Linked DNA regions of Homo sapiens: region 2 is linked to region 1. A link means that fine-mapping ties the variant in region 1 to the expression of a gene that starts in the linked region. Tissue or cell type: esophagus muscle. Region 1 holds a variant in brackets; the other region holds the start of a gene. All regions are shown on one strand. Distances are between the middles of the regions.

Region 1 (8,180 bases):
AGAGGCTGCAGTGAGCCAAAACTATGCCACTGCACTCCAGCCTGAGAGACAGAGTGAGACTCTGTCTCAAAGAAAAAAAAAAAGTATAAACAGGTATAAAAGATAAAGCCTCTCTCACACCCCTTACCTGATTCCCCACCACACATCCACTTACAGACAACCCCATCTCTCATTTCTGGAGTTTACACACAAACAAGAGTGCAGGTGCTTAATTTTCCTCGTTTGTTCACACCGGAAGAGCGTGCGGAAGCCGCCGCTCAGTACTTCCTTCTCAGCCTAACACTATGCTTCAGAGATCTTCTACACAGTCTACATGAGGGGTCCTTGTTCTTTTTGACAGCTGTGTAGCATTCCCCCTGGCCAGAGGGATCATGGTTTATGTAACCAGCCCATTCTGCTTTTGCAAATAAGGCTGCAATGAGCCTGTGACTTGCTCATGTCATGCCCCTCTGTAGGATGAATTCCTAGAAGTGAAGTTACTGGGTCAAAAAGTTTATGCATTTGTAATTTTGATAGCTTTTGTCAGATTGCACTCAAGAGAGACTGTACCAATTCACACTCCCTGCAGCTGAGGCAGGGGAGTGTCCATTCTGCAGCCTCTCCTATGGAGAGTGTTAATTGACTTTGAGATTAGGAGAAGACCAGTAATTTCCATGTCTCTTGTTACAAGGGAGGCTCAGCAGTCTTCCCACGGGTCAGGGGCCATTCTTTTTTTTATTTTATTTTATTTTTTTTGAGATGGAGTCTCACTCTCGTCGCCCAGGCTGGAGCACAGTGGTGCTATCTTGGCTCACTGCAACCTCCGCCTCCTGGGTTCAAGTGATCCTCCTGCCCCAGCCTCCCAAGTAGCTGGGATTACAGGCAACCACCACCAAGCCTGGCTAATTTTCTGTATTTTTAGTAGAGACAGGGTTTCACCATGTTGGTCAGGCTGGTCTTGAACTCCTGACCTCAGGTGATCCACCCGCCTCAGCTTCCCAAAGTGCTGGGATTACAGGAGTGAGCCACCGCAACTGGCCGGGTCAGGGGTCATTCTTATTGCTTTTCTGCCAACTGCCCACACCGGGGCTGGCGTCTTCCTGCCCCACCGTAAGGGCCCAGGGCTCCAACATGAGTCCTGAGTGTGGGGACACCTGAATGATGGCATGGCTGTCAGGACAAGGCCTCCCAGCCTCCAAATGTCTGGCCGTGGGAAGGGGAGAGCCTCAGCCGCAACACGAGCCTGCTCTCAGCTCATGTGTGGCATGGTGTGGACATGGCACCTTCCCATAGCCAAGACAGCTAGGCTCCCTGCCCACCACTGAGCTCAAACCTGGGCTCCGCCATCTCCGTAACTGGAAAGCAGAAACAACACCGGCACCTCCTCCTGGGGATGTAGGGAAGAGTCAGTGTCCGGTGGCTCCCGGCGGCGGAAATTTGTCCCATCATCGCGGCTTACCAAGGGGAAGGTGAGCCTCTGTGGTGTAAAAGGCTTGTCCCAGCCCTGGCCATTCCACGACTCAGTTGGGCCCATTTCCCTGTCTCCACTGCCCTATCACCAGAGTGTCCAGGGAGAAGCTGGATGGCAGGGCAGGGCACCGAGGACCCCAGGAGCCCAGCCGTGGACTTTGGATCTATCTCCCTCCCTGCTCCCGACACCCTTGTCCTCAGTACTCAATTGTGGGTTCTGCCTCCTCAATCAGATCCCAACTAAAAAGTCACCTCTGCAGAGAGAAGAGGTTCCTGCAGGGCTCTCTGGTGACCTTCATCTGTGCTTGCAGCCCTGCCTGAATCACCCTCCAATTTTATTTTATTTTTATTTTTATTTATTTATTTATTTATTTATTTATTTATTTATTTGACACAGAGTCTCGCTCTGTCACCAGGCTGGAGTGCAGTGGTGCAATCTCGGCTCACTGCAAGCTCCATCTCCTGGGTTCAAGCCATTCTCCTGCCTCTGCCTCCCAAGTAGCTGGGACTACAGGCACCCACCACTGTGCCCAGCTAGTTTTTTGTATTTTTAGTGGGGATGGGGTTTCACCATGTTAGCCAGGATGGTCTCGATCTCCTTACCTCGTGATCTGCCCGCCTCGGCCTCCCAAAGTGCTGGGATTACAGGTGTGTGCCACCACGCCTGGCCCATCGCCCTTCAATTAAAGTGTCACCATCTCCCTTGCCAGCAGGTCTTAGCATGAGAACTGTGTCCAGCTGACCCTGGGCGCCTCCCCAGTCCTCAGCAGAGCCTGAGCCGCTGGAGGTGAATCATGATGGGATTTCAATGAGCAAGGCCTCCACTAGGCTCTGAAGGCAACCCCTGAGCCCAAGACGAGTGCTGGGGCTGTGGCCACTGGAAGTGTGACCCCGGGGGCCTGATGGCCTCCATTCAAGTCCTACCCAAGGCCACCCCAGGCCACACCTGCCTGAGGAAGAGATGCTCTAGTCTGGGGGCACTGCCACAACCTCACCTCCTGGGCCTCAGTTTCCTGTCTACAAATGGTGTCATGGCACTGCTGGTCCCACAAGGCCACTGAGGGGGCAGAGTGGATATCTGCAGGGCTTGGAGCTGGTGGCCCAGGCTGTATCAGCTACTGTAGTTCTATGCACCCAAGACCCCAAACTCCTGAGTCCACCCTTCCTAAACCCTGGACAGTGAGGGATGCTGGGACCGGGTTGGCATATTACCACTGCCCAAGGTCCCTGTCCTCACTGTGCCACATGAGGGGAGGCTGCTGGAATGACTTGGCACTTAGTTCATACCTGGGTTCCTGCCAGTCACAACCCCATCTCACAGGTCACCAGGCAACCTCCCGAGAGGCCCAACTCCAGGCAGGGATCAGCAGAAACCCCCAGGCCTGCCCATGCCCCTCCTCATGGCCCTCAGGCCTGCCAGCAGCTCACTGAAAGGGACACAGCTTTGGATGGTTCTGCAGCAGGGCCACTTGTAACACAACATTAATTTGTCATTCTGTTGAATATGTTAATTTACTCAGAGATATTGTTTGTAACTTTGGAATTGTTTTGAAAATGTGCATAAGTTGTACATGACACAAAAAGTCAGGATGGTCAGGTCTAACCTCCAGTGGATGCAGGAAGCCCCTCCCAAGTCCCTGACAGGTGTCTGCCCAGAGGTGCCTTACTGCATTCACATCTGTCATGTCACTGCCCTGGGACAGTGAATAGCCCTGCCTCTGCCTGCACCGCCCGGCCCCTCAGCTCTGCCTCGCTGGACACACTGCCGACCACCAGATCGGCCATTACATTCCAGCCCAGAGAAAGAATCATGGGGTGAATGAATGAGAACATGAATTAGAAAGGTCAAAAGTTCTGGAAATTGGGCAGAAATGCGTAACAACATCCTGGAGGTTGCCAAGAGGCCAGCATTGCAGGGAAATGCCCAACCATCCGCTACAAAATTCTCAAGCTGAACAGCACAGTTTACCGAGATATAATTCACATAGCATAAGTTTCATCCTTTTAAAGTATATAATTCAGTGTGATTTAGTATACTCACAAAGTTGTGCGACCATCACCACTAAGTCCATAAGATTTTCATCACCTCTAAAAACCCTGTACTCATTAGCAGTCACTTCCCATCATCCCCTCACCAGCCCCTGGCAACCACTAATCTACTGCCTGTCTATAGACTTGCCAATTTGGCACATCTCATATAAATGGAATCATACAGTATGTGGCCTTCAGTGTCTGGCTTCTTTC[G/A]TCTGAGCTGCTTCCAAGTCATCTGTGTTTAGCCTGCATCAGCACTTCATTGCTTCTTGTAGCTGAATAATATTCCACTGAATGGATAAATCACATTTTGTTCATCCATTCACCAGCTGGTAGACATTTCAGTTGTCTCCACTTTTTGGTGATTGCGAACAGTGCTGCAATAAACACTCATCTACTGTGTTTTTGTACATGTCTAAGTGGAATTACTGGGTCAAAAGGTAATTCTTTTTTTTTTTTTGAGATGGAATCTCACTCTGTCACCCAGGCTGGAGTGTGCAGTGGCATGATCTCGGCTCACTGCAACCTCCACCTCCCGGGTTCAAGCGATTCTCCTGCCTCAGCCTCCCGGGTAGCTGGGATTACAGGCGTGCACCACCACCACACCTGGCTAATTTTTGTATTTTTAGTAGAGACGGGTTTCACCATGTTGCCTAGGCTGGTCTCGAACTCCTGACCTCAGGTGATCCACCTACCTCGGCCTCCCAAAGTGCTGAGATTATAGGTGTGAGCCACCGTGCCCAGCCGTCAAAAGATCATTCTATGTTTAACCTTTTGAGAAACCTCCAAAATGGTTTTCCACTGTGGCAGCACCATTTTACATTCCCACCAGCAATGTGTGAGGTTCCAGCTTCTGCAGGTCCTCGCCAACACTTGCCCTCTGCCTGTTGGTTTTGGTTTTAATGCCGGCACACTGGAGGATGTCACCTGCCCTATGCCTGTTTTTTTGTTTTGTTTTGTTTTAGACAGAGTCTCGCTCTGTTGTCCAGGCTGCAGTACAGTGTCACAATCTCAGCTCACTGCAACCTCCGCCTCCCAGGTTCAAGCGATTCTCCCGCCTCAGCCTCCTGAGTAGCTGGGACTACAGGCACCTGCCACCACACTCGGCTAATTTTTGTATTCTTAATAGAGACGGGGTTTCACCATATTGGCCAGGTTGGTATTGAACTCCTGACCTTGTGATCTGCCGACCTTGTGATCTGCCCGCCTTGGCCTCCCAAAGTGCTGGGATTACAGGCATGAGCCAACGCACCCGGCCTGCCTGTTGGTTTTAATGTCGGCATACTGGAGGGTGTGGGCAGTATTGTGCTGTGGCTTTGGTATGCTTTTCTTAGGTGACTGATGATGTCAAGCAGCTTCCTCATATTCGTTCTCCATTTGTATCTCTCCTTTGGAGAAATGTCTATTCAGATTATTTGCCCAGTTGTGAGTTGGGTTGTTTGTCTTTCTGTTGTTGAGTTTTAAGAGTTCTTTATGGGCTGGACACAGTGGTTTACGCCTGTTATCCCAGCACTCTGGGAGGCCGAGGCGGGTGGATCACCTGAGGTCAGAAGTTCGAGACCAGCCTGGCCAACATGGTGAAACCCCGTCTCCAATAAAAATATGAAAAAAATTGGCCAGGCATGGTGGCGGGCGCCTGTAATCCCAGCTACTCGTGAGGCTGGGGCAGGAGAATCGCTTGAACTCAGGAGACAGAGGTTGCAGTGAGGCGAGATCGCGCCACTGCAATCCAGCCTGGGCAACAGGAGCGAAACTCCGTCTCAAAAAAAAAAAAGAGTTCTTTATATTCTGGATACTGGTCACCTATCAGATATAAGATCCTTGCAAATATTTTTTCCCATTCTGTGGGTTGTCTTCTCAAAAGTTTTTAATTTTGATGAAATCCAGTTGATCTATTTTTTTTTCTTTGGCTGCTTGTGCCATCAATCTTTTGGCCAGACCGCCACACTCTGGCCGAGGCCCTGCCCCTCCCCTCTGGGCCCCTGGTCACCTCCTTTCCCCTCCCACACCAGGCCTGCTCTCAGAGCCCAGGTGCGCTGCGGCCCCTGCTGGCGGCTGTAGGCATCGCCAACCCTGTCGTCCCAGTCCTGGGACGCGCCTGCTGCCCTCCCTCCCTGTCCGCGCGGGCTGGTTATCAAGGCTGACTGGCTTAATGAGGGGCTCTGAGAACATGGGAGTTAGAAATGATAAACTTGACAGACCAGCATCTGTGCTCAAGGCTACTGTCATTTTCCCAGGAAGGGAAGGAAAGGAAAACATTTCCCCTTCCCTGGTCCAGGTCCAGCACTAGACCACAGCCATTCCTCATTTCATGCTACCCCCACCCTGTGAGGTCAAGATTCTCATCCCCATTCAACAGAAAAAACCAAGGCTCAGGGAAATGTAGTGAGTGCTCAAAGTTCTAGGGTTACTAAACTCTAGAACAGGGACTGACTGACTGACTCACTCATTCATTCAACAAACATTTGTGAGGATGTGCCTCATACAGACCCCCTGCTGAGCCCAGGCACGTGGCAATAAAGAGAAACAGAGACCATGTTCTGGCGAGCTCACAGTCTTGGGAGACAGACAGCAAATAAGAGCCATAGGGGAAGTTCGGCGCGGTCGCTCACGCCTGTAATCCCAGCACTTTGGGAGGCTGAGACGGGTGGATCACTTGAGGTCAGGAGTTCGAGACTAGCCTGGGCAACAGGGTGAAACCCCATCTCTACTAAAAATACAAAAATTAGCCAGGTGTAGTAGTGCATGCCTCTAATCCCAGCTGCTTGGGAAGCTGAAGCAGGAGAATCGCTTGAACCCGGGAGGTGGAGGTTGCAGTGAGCCGAGATGGCGCCACTGTACTCTAGCCTGGGTCACAGAGTGAGACCCAGAGGTCACAGAGTGAGACCTATCTCAAATAAAATAAAATAGCCATAGGGAAGTCCAGGCAGGACCCCCAGGAGCCAGGAGCCAGGTTCTGGAGTTTAGAGTCGGGGATCTGTTGGGGGAGTATGGGAGAAGGAATGTCACTCTCCTGGAGCCCACAGCCCCATGCTGACGTCTGACTGTAAGGACTGGAAGCTTCGTGGTCCTGCTCCTGCTGCAAGCAGAACCTATTGCCCAAGATGCCCCCCGACCCTCCAGGGGCCTGCCTAGTGGTTCTGTTACCAAACAGAAGAGTCACAGACAGAAGCAAAGTGCGGGACTGAGAGAAGGCCCCTACCCTTGTCCATCCGTGTGGATAGACAGCCTATGTTTGTGTTTGCTTCACACATCTACAAAAAGACATTCTGGAAGGAAACAGAAGACCTAAATACATAAATAACCATGGCTGCCTGGGTGGGGCAGTGGGGACAGGCATGGCTGGGAGGCCTTTTGAAAATGTAAACAGTTAAACATCAGTATTCAAAATTTAAAAATAGAAAGCGGCCAGGTGTGGTGGCTCACACCTGTAATCCCAGCACTTTGGGAGGCCAAGGAGGGCAGATCACCTGAGATCAGCAGTTCGAGAGCAGCCTGGACAACATGGTGAAACCCCATCTCTACTACAAATACAAAAATTAGCCAGGCATGGTGGTGCACACCTGTAGTCCCAGCTACTCGGGAGGCTGAGGCAGAAGAATTGCTTGAACCCGGGAGTCAGAGGCTGCCGTGAGCCAAGATCACGCCACTGAACTCCAGCCTGGGTGACAGAGCAAAACTCTGTCTCGAAAAAAATAAATAAATAAATAGGAATGATGAAAATGTTCTAAAATTGTGGTGATAGATGTACCACTCTGTGAATATACTAGAAAGTACTGAATCATACACTTTAAACGGGTGCATTGTATGGTATGTGAATTATATCTTACTAAAGCTGTTTAAAAAGGAAGTGGGGGCCAGCTGCAGTGGCTCACGCTTGTAATCCCAGCACTTTGGGAGGCCGAGGCAGGTGGATCACTTGAGCCAGGAGTTTGAGACCAGCCTGGCCAACATGGGGAAACCCCGTATCTACTAAACATACAAAAATTAGCCAGGCGTGGTGATGTGTGCCTATAGTCCCAGCTACTTGGGAGGCTGAAGTAGGAGGATCCCTTGAGCCCAGGAGGTTGAGGCTGCAGTAAGCCATGATCACACCACTGCACTCCAGCCTGGGTGGAAAAAGTGAGACCCTGTCTCAAAAAATATAAATAAATAAATAAATAGGAAGGGGAAGGCCGGGCATGGTGGCTCACACCTGTGATCCCAGCACTTTGGGAGGCCAAGAGGGGGCGGATCACCTGGGGGCGGATCACCTGAGGTCAGGAGTTCGAGACCAGCCTGACCAACATGGTGAAACCCAGTCTGTACTAAAAATACAAAATTAGCCAGGCGTGGTGGCGGGCGCCTGTAGTCCCAGCTACTCAGGAGGCTGAGGCACGAGAATCTGTTGAACCCAGGAGGTGGAGATTGCAGTGAGCTGAGATCCTGCCACTGCACTATACCCTGGGCAGCAAAGTGAAACTCCATCTCAAAAAATAAAATAAAATAAAAATAAATAAATAAACGAATAGAAAGGGGAAAACTAACAGTGCTGAAAGTTGTTCACTGAAATGTGAGAGTGGTGCAGATGGGGGCCAGGGAGACCTACAGATAGATGTATCAGCCTGATTTCGCACAACCCGGGGATGGTCAGCAGGCATCAGAGCCCCCAGCAGGCTTGCTAAAATATAGACTCCTGGCCTCACCCTCAGACCTTCTAA
Region 2 (8,136 bases), 23 kb before region 1:
AAGATTGTGCTGACCCAACAGAAGGTGGCAGAGCAAGGGGTGGCCACAGCACCACGCCAGGCACCTCCCCGTTGCTGTATTGTGGCCTCACCACCCCCTAGAGGAGGGTCTTGTAGAAGGTCAGGCCAGTGACCCAGATCAGCACCCCCAGGGTAGCTGGGCCGGCTATGGCAGGTGGCAGACGCTCCCAGAGCCGACACGGAGCCCCAGGCTACCCCGCACCCTGTCTGACAGTACAGGGGTCTGTGGGGGAACCAGGGCTGGCCAAAGATGACCACAGGAACACAGGACATGTGGGCAAGGAGGAAGGCGGTGGGATTCTGGTGTTTTACTTCCTTGTTACCATAATGTGTTCTGCTGCCAAGAATAAAAGTTTATTCAAGAGAAGAATGACAGGGAGGTATTTTAAAATGGCTTCCCCCACAAAAAACAGTGCAGGTTCCAGCTTTGCACATCTGGAGAATTCAGAAGGTGAAACACCTCACTGCCCTTCGATGTGAGATAAATAAATATTACCCTCTCTACAGAGTTCTTTCAACACTAATTTATCAAAGGAAATCAGATGTCCTCTAAGCCAGGCTTACTAGGTCCACATGAAGGCGTTTCTCCCGTCTGGCAGGGAACCCTGAAAAACACAAGTGAGCCCCACTGGCGCCTCTCAGTTCTCCAGGGAGGCCCCCCAGCCTGTGGAGGGCAGAAAGGGGAACACAGCCCAGGCACCTGGACAGACTGCAGGTGCTGCGGGAGTAGGGGAAGAAAGGGATAGAGGCCAAGAGCAATTCCAAGAAGGGCTCCTGGCTGAAGGCAACATCCCCCTAGACCCTCCCTCTACAGTGTAAAGCGTGACTCCCAGGAACCCTCCCCATGCCCAGAATGCTAGCGGTCATGTGCAGGATGGCATCTCCACACTGTGGACTAAGAGAGCCCCTCACGACACAAAGCCAACACACCTAGAGAAGGAGCACCCACCTGTCACCCTTCCCTGCTCAGTGAGACCTGACCCCACATCCCACCCAGGAGCACACTCCCCTCGCAGAGTCCAACGCCCCTCCCACAGCCCCTGATCTCCCTGCAGCCCTACACCCCACCCTCTTCCGTTCCACACGCCCAGCAGCCCCTGGCCCATACCCAGGACATCACACAGGCAGTCCCATCAGTCCTTCCAATAGCTCTGCACAAAGTCAGCCTACACCACTCTACACACAGGCAGGGGCCCTCCTCCCCTGATCCCACAATGCCCTGCCATCTCCTCACTGGTGACCTTGGGGGTTGTTCCCCTCAGTCCTCACAGTTTGTGATGACGAGACTTCCAGCACAGCCCCAACACACACCAAGTTCTCAGCAAAGGGGGCTATTCTAAGCAGGTCCAGACTCCCTCTCATGGAAAACCCTCTCAGATCAGCACAGAGAGAGCTGATCCCAAATGACACACATCGACTAGGGACAAATGTTGGAGGTACTTCTTTTGGGGGAGATGCAGGGAAACCACAAGTTTGGGGCACCAGTAACATCCTGGCAAGGAACATCAACATATAGACAAAAAGCATATAGACCAGAAGCACCTCTCGGTTGCTGTTCCCACCTAGAGTCAAGGAGCAAGAGACCCCTGGACAGAGGCCAGGCTCCACCCCATGCCTGCAGGGGACAGACCCAGAGACAGAATCGCCTGCGTTTCCTTAAAGGGAATGGGAACTAACAAGCTCCAAGAGTCACATGCGCCTGCGATGCCTCAGCCAGATCAGCAGGCTCTGGCTGCCGAGGTCTAACTCAAATCCAGCCTACTGCAGCACCCCTGTTCCATCCACCACCCTGCAGAGGCAGCACCTGAGGGTGCTCCGGTCAGAAGGGCAAGAGCAGGAAGACCGCTCGCCAGAATCAAGAGTCGTCTCCCCTTTCAGGCCCTCTCTTCTCTCTGCTTTCCCTTGCAGCAGGAATGCCCAGCACACCCCAGGACCCCCAGATCACAGCCCCCTGCCCCACCCACTGCCTTTCCTGTACCATCAGAACCTACAGGACCATGAGGGAGGGGAGCTGTTCAGTCCCTCCTAAGGACCTCACACAATGCCACTGACCCCTAACTTGAAAAGCCACATCTCCAAGGCAGAACCAAGGGGTGGTGGAGAGGCAGGTCTCTGGAGCTCTTTGTCTTGGGAGAAAGGCTGACGACAGGTCGACACCCACCGAATTATCCAGGCTTGCACACACACGCAGGCCACCCTGTCGGGGCCGGAGGATATAGCAATTGAATCCCACTTCTGAGTCAAAAATGCAAGAGTCCCGCAGTGTGGCCAGCGGCCCCAGAACACAGCTTGCCCCAGCTAGCCCCAGCCCCGTTTCAGGCCTGGACTGGACAGCCAGCTAACTTTACAGGCCAACAGAGTACACTTACACCTCCAGCCGGCACTCTCCCAGACTGGCTCACGCCTGACAGCTGCCCACCTCCAAGGAGGGAGGCCTGTAAACACCCCCTGGACAGGCATGGCCTCTGCTTCCTAGGCTGTCCCAGGACAGCTAAGGTGGCTGTTTATATAATCTTGCAGGGCTGGGGCTGACACCACGGTGATGGCAGGATTATGAAAAATGCATGCCCAGAGCCTCTGCAGCCAAGAAAAACCCCCACACGCATTCTGCATGACTCGGTTTTAAGACCTCTCACACGTCCATTTTGTGAACAAATGGAGCTCTCAGAGCAGCAGAGGCGACTAACCACACTTCCAGGCCTTGCCCAGCTGTCCCCAGAGCTCTACCAGGCACCACCTCTGGGTCACAGGCCCTGGGTCAGAAGAAGTCTCTGCAGGTATCCCTGCTGGGGCAGCCACGGCTTGCTGGACACAGGAAAGTACTAATTTATGGGCAGCCCAGAGCCCCCAAAACACTCTGACTGCACACACCGGGCCTTGAAGCCTCCACACTGTTTTGCAAAGACACAACAGTCCAGACTCCCTGGGTCATTAAAGTAGGTCATCGGGACTGGAGAAGCAGCAGCCTAAGAGACACAGCCTCCGAGGCCCACTCTCCAGGACCCTCTCTACGCCCACAGCGTGCACACTTACACCAAACGCACAACAGAGGCCTGCCCTCGCCACCAGCTGACTCACAAACCGCAACCTGCGCACGGACACAGCCAGGCCCCACATGCCGTCCGCACACCTGGTATGCATCCTGCCAGCCATCCACACAGAGGGTGACACACATGGAGCCCCGCCGCCCCCAGGGCTTCTTAAGGCCAGGCGCAGGAGCAAGGACAGGCCCAAGGACGCACTCGCGGACAGACCCTGCGGAAAGCCCCCTGCGGGCTGGGGCACCCTCACCTGCAGCTCACACCAGGCCACCTCCACCCAGGTCTCCGTGTCCAGCCCCTTGTAGACCGTCTTGAAGGAACCGCGGCCCAGCTCGATGTCGAACTTGAGGAAGCGGCCGTCCAGAGAGGTGGCCACGGCCTTGAGGTCGTCCTCGTCGTCCTCCTCCTCTTCGGGCTCGTCCCGGCGAGTGCGCCCGGGCTCAGGCTTCGCCTCGGCCGCCCCCTCATCCTCCTTCCTCACGGTCGCCGCCGCCTCCTCCCTGGGGCCGCCGTCGGGGGCAGGCGCGGTTTCGACAGCGGCTGCGATGGGGTCCGGGCCGGGCTCCTGCGTGCCCACGGGCTCGGGGCCGGCGTCCGCGGGGGCTCCGGGGGCTCCCGGCTGCGCTACCAGCGCTGCGGGCGCGGGGGCGGCGGGGCGTCCGCGGGCGCGCTCCGCGATGAGGCGGCGCGTCTTGCAGAGCAGAAGCACCCGGCGCTGCAGGGGCTGCGGGGGCTGCGGGCCCGGCGCCTCGGCTGCCTCCAAGCCCGGCGGCTCCTCCTGGTCCGACTCTACCACGCTGCGCCGCAGAAAGCGCTGGGGCCCCGGCCGCGCCGCCTTCGCCCGAGGCTCCGCCATGCCCGCGGGCCCCGCGCCGCGCCCGGGCTCCATCAGCGTGCCGGGGACGTCTCGGCGGCCGCCATCGCCGTCCATCTCTGTGGGCCAAGGACACACAGGCCCGCGTGAGCGCCGGCCCTGCCGCACCTGCCCAGGCCGCCGGATGAGACAACGCCGCCCTAAGCCCGCAACCTGCCCAGCCCCGGCCGCGGAGAGAGCCTGCGGGGGCCGTCTCTGGGGGCCCTGGGAAAGGGGGGCTGCAGACGGGACCAGAGGCTTGGGTTGGGGAGGAGGGGTCCGTGCCCTGCTCAGCCCCAGGCTGCGGAGAGGGACGGGCCTGTGGTGTCCCTGGAACCCTGGGAGAGAGGACCTGCTAGGGTGTCCCTGAGGGCCCCGGAGGCCGGCAGAGGGATCTCGCGCCCTGCCCAGCCCTGGCCCAGGAGGGTTCTGCTAGGCTGTCCCGGAGGCAGCTGTAAAGGGGATAGGGAAGCCCGGGGGTGGGAGGAAGGCAGTGGCCCGGCGGCGGCTCCACAAAGGACGCGGGCCCGGGGCGCGGGAGGGGCGCGCGGGGAGGGGGCTGCAGCGCCGCGGCGCGCACACAAAGGCGGCGAGCGGCGTTGAGGGGAGGCTCGGCACTCACAGGGCGAGCGGACGCCGTCCATGCCCGCGGCCCGGCGGCCAGGGCGTGCGAGGCGGGAGAGATCACGCTTCGAGGACGGGGTCCGAGTTCCGGGCGAGGTCCGCGCTGGGGTGGGGGCCGTGGCGCCGCTCCAGCTCCTGCGCGCTGCTCTCTCGGGCCGGGCCACTGCGGGGCCGCGCTCCCGCGTGCTCCTGCCGGCTTCGCGCGGCTCCGCTCCCGCACCGGCTCCGACCCGGCGCGCGGGGAGGGCGGGGCTCCGTTCGCCCCGCCCCGGACCGGCGCAGGGGGCTGGGCCTGGCACGCCCACCTGGCTGCGGACGGGCTGGCTGACTGGCAGGCGCGCGCGGCCACCTGCGGGCCGGCTACCTGGGCTCCCACCCGCGGTTCTTTGCTCGAGGTAGCGCTCCTGTCCTCTGAAGTTCTTTGGAACGCCCCGCAGGGCTGTCAGCTGCGGAGGACCCCGTTTCTTCCTGAGAGGAGGCAGCAGGCTCAACGCCTCAGCACGCCGCAGCCCGGCGCGCTAGACCTCAAGGCCCTGTGCCAGGACAGAATGGGCAGGCTAGGAAGAAAAGGACCAGGGGTACCGCCGCCCTCGGGAGCCCAGCCTGGGGCTAAGCCTGGTGGGGCTCAGCGTGTCCTTTCCTGCCCTCACTTCACCACCAGGAACCATGAGGACCTCATCATCACCCAGGGAGGCACTGGTGATCATTATGCCCATTTCACAGTCTAGAGCAAACTGAGGCGCCAAAGGCAGAAGTTATATGCTCTAAATCCCAGAACTTTCAAGACCGAAGCTGAGCTGGAATGCCTTGGATGGGATATGGAGAGGCTTCCAGAAGCCCCTTGACCCAAAGTGTTCTTCCTTCCCACCTCTGCCAGATGCCACCTCTCCCGAGAAGTCTTCCATGATCTCTAGCTCCTTCCTCCTCTAGACCCCCACGGACAAGCCCTCTCTTGGGCGTCTCTGGCCCTAATGCAGCAGGTGACCTGTGTCAGTAACCATACTGCTAAGTTCTGAGCCCTGCTCCAGGCAATGCCCTGAGCTAACACTTCACCCTTACCCCAGCCTCCATGATCCTAGGTGAGGAAACTGAGGCACAAGGGAGATACCAGAGTATTCTCATCTCAGTCCCCATCCCACTGGGCTGGCACCCCCATCAGATACACACACACTTCCAGAGATGAAAAGATGCTTGTGGGCCTGTAGGCCTTGGAGCCCCTGGCACAAAATAACTCATGTGGCATAAAAGCCAGCAGAGGCGATATCTCACCTTCACAATGTAGAGGGAAGAATATGCCAGGCCAACTGTTACCCAGAGAAGCAGGACTTCCTGGAGCCCCGCTGGGCACTGGCACTGGCTGAAACTAATTTGTGAGGGGCAACAGTGAACATCCCTTCCCAGCTCTGGGTTCAGCAATGCCACCCTGTAGCCTGAAGTCAGCAATGCTGGGAGTATTTACACTGCGGAAATTGGCAAACACCTCAAATCAGGACTTTTCTCCCCAGAGAGCCAGTGGTTAAATAGTGTGCTAGGTGTAGGGCTATGCATTTGGCACTTGCCTGTTATTTATATAATCTAATCTACCGTGTGAGACAGGCATTCATTCCGGGGCTCAAGTCCGCTGGCATGAGCCCAGAGCTCACACGAGGAGGAGGCCAAACAGCAGACGCCAGCTCTGCAGGACAGAGAGGCCTGAGGGACAGGGATCTAAGTTGCATCTCCTGGGGCAGGAGTCTTCCAGGTAGAGGTCAGGGGTGGAAAAGGATCTTTTCTGTCTTCCCTTTGGAGGCTAAAGACCCCCCAACCTTGCCCCTAACCAGCTGAGTGAACTTGGGCAAGTCCTGGTCCTTCCTGAGCCTCAGTATCTGGCCCTGCAGAGTGGGCTGATCATCCTGACTTGCCCACCTTAAAAGGCTGCCAATTCCTTGTAGATTCAGTCAATCTAGGAAGGGCACCAAGTCCACAGACCTGTTCATGATGGGTGTGTTCAAGCCTATCCAAGGGAAAACCAGGATGGGACAGAGCTAAGCGTGTTCTGAGACCAGCACACACCTATCTGGCCTCCTCCTGCTCCCAACAGGCCACACTGGCAGTGTGTGGGCAAAATACCTGCCAGCATCGGAGAAGGTTCATCAGCACCCATGGCTGCTGCCCACCCACACTTGTACACATGCGTGGGAAAGGATGGCTACACCCACAAATCAGCAGGGAGCAGCCCAGGCTGTGGGGAGTGGGGGACAGCCTGTCCCTGAGAGAGTACTGTGTGCTCTCTGAGCCCTTGGGGTGAATTCACGCATCTCTGCTTACACACCTCCCATGGTGGAGAGCTCATTCTCTCTGCCAACCCATGACCATTAGGGTACACAGCTAAGTCAGTAGTGGACAGGTCACAGTTTCCTCTGCAAGGAATCTCAGGCTGGGCTCAGGAGCAGCTCCTGGGATCCTGGCAGATGGAGCCTGAGGGATCCTTGGACAGACCTTGGAAGTCAGGACTTCACAGCACTGGCTATATGCCCTTTGGCAGGTCACTGGATATCTCTGAGCTTCCATCTCCCTGCTGCTAAGACGGGGAGTATAAATACTGTAGTCTGCTTTACTGGGTGTCCTGAGGCTGCATGATCCAGGGTCATGATGCCAGCATTTGTCTTTTGGAGGTTTGTTTTTTGTTTTCTGCTTTTGTTTTTGTTTTTTTGAGATGGAGTTTCACTTTGTTGCCCAGGCTGGAGTGCAGTGACGGGATCTCAGCTCAGCTCACTGCAACCTCTGCCTCCCAGGATCAAGCAATTCTCCTGCCTCAGCCTCCTGAGTAGCTGGGATTACAGGCGCCCACCACCACGCCCAGCTAATTTTGTATTTTTAGTAGAGATGAGGTTTCACCATGTTGGCCGGGCTGGTATCGGACTCCTGACCTCAAGTGATCCAACCACCTCAGCCTCCCAAAGTGCTGGGATTACGGGGCAGCATTTGTCTTCGATGTTTAGAACAGATGAGTACATTGAGGTCTTGCCCAGAGATTTTTCAACTTTAAGTAACTTTCTCAAGGCCTCAGAGTGGAGACAGTGACCTCTACCCACAGCTATCACCTTAGCTTCCACAATGCCAGGGAGCCCCTTTGGTGAAAAAAGTTTCTCCCAAGTCCAGGCTATGCTCCAGCCTACCCAGCCAGTAGGCACGTGCAGGCACACACCTGCTCCATGCAGATGCAGTTCCAGGAGCTGGGCCTCAGCAAGCAACAGGACCATGGTTTCAGTTTGCTCATCTGTGAGATGGGCATAATGGTCATGCTCAACAGTCTTGGCAACAAAAGGCATTCAACAAATGCTCATGAAAGAAGGGAGGAAAGGAGATGGGGCTAGCTCCACTGCCTCTGCTCACATCAGGGCCCATTGAGGGTCACTGGCTAGAAGGAAGAGCAGGGTCTAGCCATGCCCAGCTGGAGCTCAGTCCACAATTGCCCCGTGGGGCAGGTTCTGCCTCTGAGTGGAGTCAGGCAACCTATCTAGTGCTCAGGTCCAGTGTGGCCAGGCCACTTGCCTGAGTGCCCCCCGGGTCACACCATGGGGAGAATACCCTGGCAGGGGCATCAGATGGGGAGGAC

The links. PIP is the estimated chance that this variant, and not a neighbour inherited with it, causes the effect.
Region 2: WNK2 starts here. The variant in region 1 is fine-mapped to the expression of WNK2 in esophagus muscle (GTEx, PIP above 0.99). The same link has a PIP of 0.9 or more in gastroesophageal junction and sigmoid colon.

What each region holds. Positions count from the first base shown.
Region 1 is chr9:93,157,472-93,165,651 of GRCh38, reverse strand. No RefSeq gene overlaps it. Among named protein-coding and RNA genes, the nearest start is that of WNK2, 23 kb to the left of the region's middle. RefSeq lists a silencer at 5,410-5,539. The variant G/A (reference allele first, on the strand shown) is at 3,694.
Region 2 is chr9:93,180,786-93,188,921 of GRCh38, reverse strand. WNK2 (WNK lysine deficient protein kinase 2) reads right to left here and starts at 4,783. Exons shown (of 30, transcript NM_006648.4): 1 at 4,537-4,783; 2 at 3,312-3,994. The coding sequence starts at 3,992. RefSeq lists an enhancer at 1,780-2,745.